3 separate regions of the Homo sapiens genome follow, and regions 1 and 3 are each reported to be linked to region 2. The links are microRNA targets in miRTarBase. Many come from high-throughput screens and were not tested one by one. Region 2 holds a microRNA gene; each other region holds the end of a gene's coding sequence.

Region 1 (3,000 bases), not on the chromosome of region 2:
GGCCATCTGGATATGGTAATGTGGTGTCCTTGTACCTGGGAGGGGAGCTGGAGAGGAGTGCGTGGGCCCGGGGCTGATGTCCCTCTGCCCAGGTTCCTAAGCACGTGCTGCCTGGGGAAGCCCATGGCACAGGGGCCAGGAGCCTGGCTTTGGACTCGGCTGCCTAGGCGTGGGTCCCAGCATCATCAGCTTTGAGCTGTGTGATCTCGGGCAAGTCACTTCATCCCTTTGACCCACAGTCTCCTCATCTGTAAAGTGGGGACAATAAAAATACCCGTCGCACAGGGATACGGCAGGATTGAATGAATAATACACGCTAAAGGTTTAGGGCCTGGGGCTGCTGCCTCTGTCTCTGTGCATGGTGTCAGGATGCCCAGCCCGAGGGTGGCGGGGGTGGATCTTGGGTTGGACTCAGCTGAACATCCCGAGTTCTCACCCTTCATTTTTCTTTCCCACCATGTCCCCTGTCACCTAGGTTTCCTTGGGTCTTCTCAGGACCGTAGTGCCTACCAGACGATTGACTCAGCAGAGGCGCCCGCAGATCCCTTTGCAGTCCCAGAGGGCAGGAGTCAAGATGCCCGAGGGTACTGAAGCCAGCCACGCTGCGCCCGGCCCTGCCCCGGGCCTTCCTCGTGCCTGGGAGGTCGTTCTAGGGATGCTCCTGACCTCCGTCTCTTGGACCTAAGATGGAATGTGTCCCCAGCTCAGGGATTGCCTGAACCAAGAGGCCAGGAGCCCCCATGGGCCGCCCAGTACCATGCACACTCCTGTCCCGAACTCCCTGAGGCCTCCCCTCCCTTCAGGGCACCCACTGGTTCCCAGGCTGGAACCAGGGTCTCTCTTTACCTCCTACCCCATGGTGGCACCACAGAGGCCCTCAGCCGAGTCCTGCCTGAGTGTTGCAAGCTCAGGCCTTTAAGGACTGCTGATGCCCCCTCAGGCCTCCCCCAAGTTTGCTGGGCTTTGGTGGAAGCCCTGAGAGCTTCAGGTCCTGCTCAGCCCGAGGAGCAGTCTGGCATGGGAGTGAGGCCCCGTCCTTCTCACTGCCTGGTCACATGGTGCCTAGGGATGCAGGGCTGGAGGCCAGAGGTGTCAGCAACACTGTGTCCCACCACAACCTCCAGCCTCCCTTTTCAGAGCACAGCATTAAAGTTTGGGGAATTCTGTAGATGGGCTGTGTTTTGAACCACCTTCAATCTCCTGGCTGGGCTGGGGCCTGGCCTTGTTCCTGGGAAGATGTCTCCTGCCAGTTCCCAGGTGGAGCCTGTGCTGTGCTGCCCCATTCTGTCATGGCAGGAGGAAACAGGCATGTGCGTTGGCTGAGCTGGGCTTGAGCCTGGCTCTGGCCTAGCAGAGGCCACAGGAGAGAGAGACACTGGTGGGTGTGGTGCGTGGGCATCCGTTTCTCTGAACCAGATGACCCAGGCACTCTTTGGAATCCTGCTCTGCCACTTACTAGCTGCATGCCTTCAGTGTCTTCTAGAAAGGGTTGGTGCCTGCTCCAGGTGTGAAGTGCCTGGCGTGAGGAGGGCTCCCTAAGTGATGGTGAACTTGTTAGCAGTGGACCTGCTCCTCAGGCCAGTGACGATGCTAGGTTAGGAGGCAGGGGCGACCTCTTCCTGGTAGCCCCTGTGTCTGGTCACAGCTGACTTGGGCTGACACGTCCAGAAGTTCCCCAGGGCCTCGGCCCACCCCACGGACAGGTCTAGCTATTCACAGCTTGCTCTTCTGCCCCCTGGGCACCAAGTGCCAGGGCTTTCCCAGGCCATCCTGGCTTGTCCCTGGCACAGGGTCAAGGCCTAGTGCACAACTCCCATTATTCTCTTGCGTCCATCTGTCAATCAAAAGAGGCTCAGTACCTGCCTGGTGCCGAGCGGGCTTGGGGCTGCAGTGGTGACCTTGGGAGCCTGCTCTCAACCTAGGAGTCTTCCCACCTGGAGGATTACAGACAGAGGCAAGAGCCCCGAAAGAAGAGGACATGGGCCTCTGGGTCAGGGAGGAAGGCTGCTGTGGGGAAGGGGCTGTGCTCCGGGCAGAGGGCTGCTGAGCAGCTGCAGTTGTGAGAAACTGGAAACAGCCTCACTGTCGGGAGACGGACCAGTAAGCCACGGTCCATTCATTACAGGGAGTATGGACCAGGAAGCCACAGTCTATTCATTGTAGGGAGTATGGACCAGGAAGCCACAGTCTATTCATTGTAGGGAGTATGGACCAGGAAGCCACAGTCCATTCATTGTAGGGAGTATGGACCAGTAAGCCACGGTCCATTCATTATAGGGAGTACGGACCAGTAAGCCACGGTCCATTCATCGTATGGAGCACAGTGCAGCAGTTACAGCTGTTAAACCAGACCTATTTCCACCAACGTTGGCCCCCCGCAAATGTGAACAAAGCAGATTGCAGAATGGCATTGGGATGAATTTTCAGACCTCACAGCAATGCCATATGTTGTTCCTGGGTGTATGTGCGGTAAAATAGAAAAGCATGGACTAGAAGGACACCTGTCAGGTTCATGACTGTAGCCACCCTGGGTGGAGGAGGAGCGTGACCCGAGGGGAATGGGACTAAGACCCAAGTCCGTTTATCTTGTGTATACAGCATCCTGGCCCCGGGAAGGCTTGTGTACCTGCGTCGTGAACGTGTCAGATTCCCAAAGGGAATGAAAAGCCAGGGCAGGGGCTTGGCCCAGGCAGTGGGGGCAGATGATGCAGCCTGGGCCACGCACAGGGGAGTGTATCTAGACACCTCAGTCCCTCATCGTCCCAGACCCCCAGGTTGAACCGGCTCTTTGCGGGAGAGGACAGAGGAAAGCTCCTGTCTCAGAGTGTACCCCAGAAGCAGAGCCTGCGATGAAAGCAAGGGTGCCAGGCTTTCCAGTCATTGGCTAGGAGCTGCTCAGGGAGTGGGAGAGGGTGGCTTAGATTTGCAGGCACTGTGCCACCCCCCGACTGTGCAGGCAGTCGGGAGCCGGAGGGCCATCAGAGGCAGACAGAAACGGTG
Region 2 (3,000 bases):
TGTCTTTTCCATTTTTGTTCATATTTAGTTTTTGGCAACCACAGCTTGTATAATTACATTATGTTGGAGCAGGACCATATTAAGGAAACATTGCAAAGTACAAAAAATTTTCTTTGGCTCACCTCCCATCTGTAGTGTTTCATGGAGTAATAGCCTTTCTCTGCATCAAAGTCTTTCCTGGATTCCTGTGGTATTGTTCCCAGAATCTCCTCGTCTAAACTCTCCTGAAGCGTTAGCTCCTAAACACATATGTTACTATTTCTATGGGGCTTTTCCTTTACTAGGAATGGAAAACACTGTTGAGATGATCAGATATATACTGCTGATGAGGCAGCCACACTTACCAGCCAGAGGCCAGCTCTGCTTCTGAGGATACATAGAAAGTATATTCCAATAGCGGCCTTTGCATGTGTGCATTATAGCAGCATTCATATTTGAAGAAAGTCAAATTAAAGCATGCATATAAAACTTGTACTATTTGCAGTTTGAAGATTTTGCCCATGAATTTCAAATGTCTGCATGGAATCCCAAGTTATTTTCTCTTTATGGTATAAAAATGTTAAAGAGTGGGGAAGAGGAGGTAATGATCAAAATGCTCATGTGAGGAAACAACTAGGTATTTTATGAGAAAGACAAGCTTCCAAACACAGGTTAAACATGGCACTTTTCATCTCACCTGAAGCATGCTGGCCACTCCAGTCCACCAAATGCAGTTCCCTTGGGACCTACGCTGGATGGATACCCAAGGTCTCATGAGGTAAAGGCTAGGACACTTGCTCTTTCTGACCAGGCAGTGCTGTGGCTGATTAATATCCACCCAAAGCCACAATCACCTTCTGATCTGAGGAGCAGGTGACGGGGAGATTCTGAAGTCTCTTGATAAATTATGCAAACATAATCAAACAATACACATTGCAGGTTAAAAAAAAATTCAGTCACTGAAGTGGTTTGCTTTGTCCTTTAAAGAACTGAATCTAAATAGATTGTCATCAATCATTGGCAGTTCCTAGAATGACAACGCTGAGAAATTAGTATTACATGGGTACCATAGAAGAGCTATTTTCTTTCCTAGTGAAACGCTTGGGAAAGGAGAGAGGAAGGGAGAAAAATAAACAAGGCTTTTCTAACTACTGTTGGAATTTTCCTTTCTCTGTTCTTTCTTCAGATGAACCAGAAGACCAATTTAGTCCCAATATCCAATGCTTTCACATGACTACAGCTTATCCTAAGCCTTCCTTCCTCCTTGCCAATACAAAATACACACCTTTCAAGGATCTTTCAAGGCCTATATCAAAGGTCGAAATTTGCCTACTCCTAAGTCATTCATTTTGTAACGACATCAGTTTCTATGTGATTATATTATATATATATATATATATATATATATATATATATCCTTTTGTATATATATTCTAATTTTATATACTCTGTCTAAAGCTACAATATCTCCTTGCACAGAGTCACAAAATGTAAATTGAAATACATTATTGTTATTAGTTTGATTTTTGTGTTACCTCATCTTCACTATTTAGTAATCATCTTAAATGCAGTAACTTTTGACTTGTAAATGTTGGGCTTTTGACACAGAGTTGGTGTTAACAACATTATATGCAAAATGACTCACTTTACTATTTCATTCGCAATTCACAAAACAAAAAGTTAATTTGTATTCATTGAATAAGATAATACATAGACATATCAAAAATATATAATTTGTAGTTTATTTAGACTCAACATTGTTCCACAACATATCTAAAGCAGAAAGAAAAGATAAAAATATACACATTTATTTTTACAATAAATACTGTCAATAAGTTATCAACTAAATATTAAGGCACTTCTTAGATTAATAAAATTAATAAATTTCACATTGTGTAATATTGTTTTCATAATAGGAAGCCAGTGGTTTTCATTATTTTTCAATAGTCATCGTAGATATGATTATTGCAAATATAAGATATTTTGAATACATACAGTAATATAGTTTGGTGTTAAACAGTAGAGAGAAGAAGGATTTACTGGTCCTTCTGATTTCTTTTTTCACTTTTGTTGGATTATTTCAGGAATACCAGCAGGAATTAGTTTGCTATTATCATTTTATTTTCATAGAGAGGAAAGGAGAGAGTAGGTCAATTGGGATCAGTCTCCCAGGGCATATAAACCCGGCAGAGAGTGGCCCTCTTTAATCTCTGCTACCCTAGACATCAAAGGCTGCACTGCCACTATTCACAGAGATATGTCAGCATGTCCACAGGGGCCTGAACAATCATGCAGAGGTCCATGCTATGGCCTCTCTTGGGAAATCCCGCTCCCGACTTTATCTGGTATGCTCTCCCACCTCCCTCAAGATCTAACTTTGATGCAACTTCCTAGGCATCTCCATTATTTTATTTATTTATTTATTTATTTAGAGACGGAGTCTTGCTCTGTCACCCAACTGGAGTACAGTGGCACAATCTTGGCTCACTGCAACCTCTGCCTCCTGGGCTCAAGCGATTCTCATGCCTTAGTCTCCTGAGTAGCTGGGAATAAGGGATGCCAACATGTCCACCTAACTTTCGTATTTTTAGTTGAGACGGAATTTCACCATGTTGGCCAGGCTGGTTTTGAACTCCTGACCTCAAGTGATCCGCCTGCTTTGGCCTCACAAAGTGCTGGGATTTCAGGCGTGAGCCACTGTCCCCAGCCGGCATCTCCATTCTTGATCTGGGTATCAAGTCTCTGTACTTCGTGCTCACTATATACCTAGCCCATTCTGATTTATGCTTGCTATTCCCATGTCAAAACATTGCCCCATTTTACCCTCAACAGTGTCCATACTTGCAGGATAGATTATAGTCATGGGGTTCAGCTTAAAATCTGCCTTGACTAGAAGGTCAATTCTGGTTCTCTCATCTCTAGGCATCCCTTCTAGCCACCAAGTAGATTTTGTTTTCAACACAGACTGAGGCCAACTCTAAAAAGTTATCAAAAATACTTAAAGAAAACATATGGTCAAAT
Region 3 (3,000 bases), not on the chromosome of region 2:
TGAAATCACCTTGTCCTTTCTGCAGGGATCCAGGTCCGGCACGATCAAGACCCAGGCTACATGCATCACAAGTTTGCCATCGTGGACAAGAGGGTGCTCATCACTGGCTCGCTCAACTGGACCACGCAAGCCATCCAGAACAACAGGGAGAATGTTCTCATCACGGAGGACGACGAGTACGTGCGGCTTTTTCTGGAAGAATTTGAGCGCATCTGGGAACAGTTTAACCCTACAAAGTATACCTTTTTCCCACCAAAGAAAAGTCACGGAAGCTGTGCCCCACCTGTCTCCAGAGCTGGAGGGAGATTGCTTTCATGGCACAGAACTTGCGGCACCTCCAGCGAAAGCCAAACCTAACCAAGAATGGGGCTGAGCCCTCCCTGCGGGCTGCTGTGCGTTCTGAGGGAGGGAGACCTCGGCACTAGAAAAAAATCGTTAAACTAAAGTCTCGTCTATTAGAATACTAAATTGAACTAAAGAAGGTTAGGAAAGGGAAATTTCTGTTACTTCGGGTCAGTTATTTCGGGCCAGACCTTTTTCTTGCTCCTTTGCCAAAATAACTTCAGTCACGACCTGCCACGGGGTGCTTTCATGAGTGTGGTCCGTATCTTGGTTTGGAATCGAAACTTCTGCTACAGCACAGAAAAGGCACAGTGCCTCTTCCAGGTCGATCCCATTCCCTTCCCTGATTCTAGAAAAGTCCCTCCTGCTTTGGCTGATGTGGGCCCTTTCAGCATCTCCCTGAGATTTCATCCCTCTCTCCATGTGGCACGACTGGGGTTGGTTGGGGCCTACAGTCTCCTTGTCCCTCACAGTCTGCCCCTGTCAGGGCTCGGTCCTCAGAGTAAGGAAAGGAAATGGAAGTCAGGAGGAAGGGAAGATGTGAGTGTGCGGTGCGGGTGGCAAAAGCAGCCTTCGGGGCAACCCCGTGAGCGTCATTGCCACCAAAGGCTGGCTGTTCCCTTGATTCCTTGCATAATTGCTCTTTAAAACCAGTATGCACGCCAGTGCCAAGCTCTTCAGCAGCCTGTCCTTGGGTAGTAAGTGCTGTGGTCTGTCAGGACTGATGGCCAGCAGCTGTTTCTATGTTGGGCTTTTAACTTTTTTTATTTTATTTATTTATTTATTTATCTTTTTTGAGATGGAGTCTCACTCTGTGGCCCAGGCTGGAGTGCAGTGGCACAACCTCGGCTCACTGCATCCTCTGCCTCCTGGGTTCAAACGATTGTCCTGCCTCAGCCTCCCGAGTAGCTGGGATTACAGGTGCCTGCCACAACACCTGGCTGATTTTTTTTTTGGTATTTTTAGTAGAGACAGGGTTTCACCATGTTGGTTAGGCTGGTCTCAAACTCCTGACCTCAAGTGATCCACCACTTCCGCCTCCCAAAGTGCTGGGATTACAGGTGTGAGCCGCCATGCCCGGCCGGGCTTTTAACTTTTAATGTCCTAATGTTAAGGTAATTTTGTTGTGTGTTTAGAAGTGACCTTACCTTTAACACCTGTGGAGTTAGTGCGTGCACATTGCTGGCTCAGCGTAACCCATCACGGGACCGGAGGAGAGGAGAGCGGGGAAGAGGAGAGCAGCTTCAGGCCGTGGTGTCTCCCACGTCTGTGTTCTTATTTGCAGCTCAGGGTTTGCATTCCCAGGTAGAACAGGTGTCGTACACTGTGAAATGTTCCAGGTTATTTGTTTATAATGTGTGTGTCATATACAGATAGCTCCGATGACATCTGAAGTTGTGACTTCATCATCTTGTCATATTTCTGTATGATGAGCCCCAGGGCCCATCCTGAGGTCTGCTAGCCATGTGCTTAGTCTCACCTCCCCAGCCCACGCTGGCATTACCACCCAGAGACCCTTCAGTGCTGTGTGTTTTTCCTTTTTAGGGTTACTTTTGACTCACAGTGTTAGGCAAGCCAGCTTGGAAGTTAACTTTTAAAAAAATTCAATTGAAGCTGTAAAGTATAATATATAGATTGGAAGTCACCAGAAATTGTTTTAGTTTGTGAATTCCCCCAGTGTATGTTCTGAAAAGAAAATGGGAGAGCTTGTAAAGCATCTCCTAAATGCGAAGCCGCGTGACCCTGGACTTCTGGCACATCTGAATAAACATGTTCTTATTCTGGAATGTGAGCGCTGGGTGTCTTTGCCTTAGCTTGCTGCTAAATCATTCAAGTAGGGGCTCCTCTTTGTTAAATATAATTTTGCGGGGGGGGGCAGTATACAGCTATTTAGAAACTGTTGGTCAAAGAACAGGAGACTCAAAGAGGAGTAAAACTTTAAGCTGTTATTTGGGTGAAGGAAATAAGGTATACGGTGGTCCATTTTTAAGACAAAGTGCCTTGAATCGGCTTCGGTCAGCAAACTACGGAAGAAACGGGTTGTACTAGGCCCCTCAGGCTAGCCGATGCCTTATCGGCTTCCCCGCCTGCCCCCTTCCCCCTTCCTTGGTTGCCCTCACCCGAACCAAAAAAGTTTAAAATGAAAGTTTACTGGCCTGCAAAATAGCTCGCTTTGTCTCTTCCTACCAGCTGGCCTAGCTACTTAGGTCATAAGTCAAATACTTGAAGAGCCCCTAAGCAGACTAAGATTGCAATGCACTGTGGGCTGTAACAAAATGCAGCAAGACAACCCTAAAAAAAAAATACCTAAAGCCCCCGCCTAACAACCAATAAGCAATGTCTGGGAAGATTGTAACCCCATAGTACTCAGCCTGTAAGGAAGGAGCCTGCACACTGGGGGATAAATTGCTTGTTGAAACTGTGCTGGGTGTGCCTGCTCATCAGACACCCGATCTTGGAAGACGTTATTAAAAGTATAGAAGATCCTTGGCCCACACGTAAAGACTGCTGTGCCAGTAACAGGCAGGCATGCCCAGGAGACCCTAGAACTGCACGCCGGCCTCTGCTCCAACACCTGAGGCGAGTGATGCTAGAAGGCAGGGGCTCGCTGAAGATGAGGGCTGGGGAGGGGGTTGTGTAGTGTGTGTGTCACCTGAA

Evidence for each region. The annotated mature microRNA hsa-miR-383-3p reads ACAGCACUGCCUGGUCAGA and lies in region 2 at 782-800, opposite strand. An mRNA with a match to its seed (bases 2 to 7 or 8) in the 3' UTR can be bound and repressed. Matches are read on the target gene's strand: a 7mer-m8 pairs with bases 2 to 8, a 7mer-A1 pairs with bases 2 to 7 and ends in A, and an 8mer does both.
Region 1: miRTarBase lists AGTRAP as a target of hsa-miR-383-3p. The part of its 3' UTR that is shown has no 7-base or 8-base seed match.
Region 3: the mRNA of PLD6 is a reported target of hsa-miR-383-3p. Seed matches in the 3' UTR shown: 7mer-m8 at 1,044-1,050, 7mer-m8 at 1,388-1,394 and 7mer-m8 at 1,863-1,869.

What each region holds. Positions count from the first base shown.
Region 1 is chr1:11,749,602-11,752,601 of GRCh38, forward strand. It overlaps AGTRAP (angiotensin II receptor associated protein), which reads left to right. Exons shown (of 5, transcript NM_020350.5): 5 at 476-1,168. The coding sequence ends at 591. Among named protein-coding and RNA genes, the nearest start is that of C1orf167, 11 kb to the right of the region's middle.
Region 2 is chr8:14,852,662-14,855,661 of GRCh38, forward strand. It overlaps MIR383 (microRNA 383), which reads right to left and starts at 849; the gene lies at 777-849. All of the region lies in intron 1 of SGCZ (sarcoglycan zeta), which reads right to left.
Region 3 is chr17:17,200,124-17,203,123 of GRCh38, reverse strand. PLD6 (phospholipase D family member 6) reads left to right here. Exons shown (of 2, transcript NM_178836.4): 2 at 26-2,129. The coding sequence ends at 357. Among named protein-coding and RNA genes, the nearest start is that of PLD6, 4.7 kb to the left of the region's middle.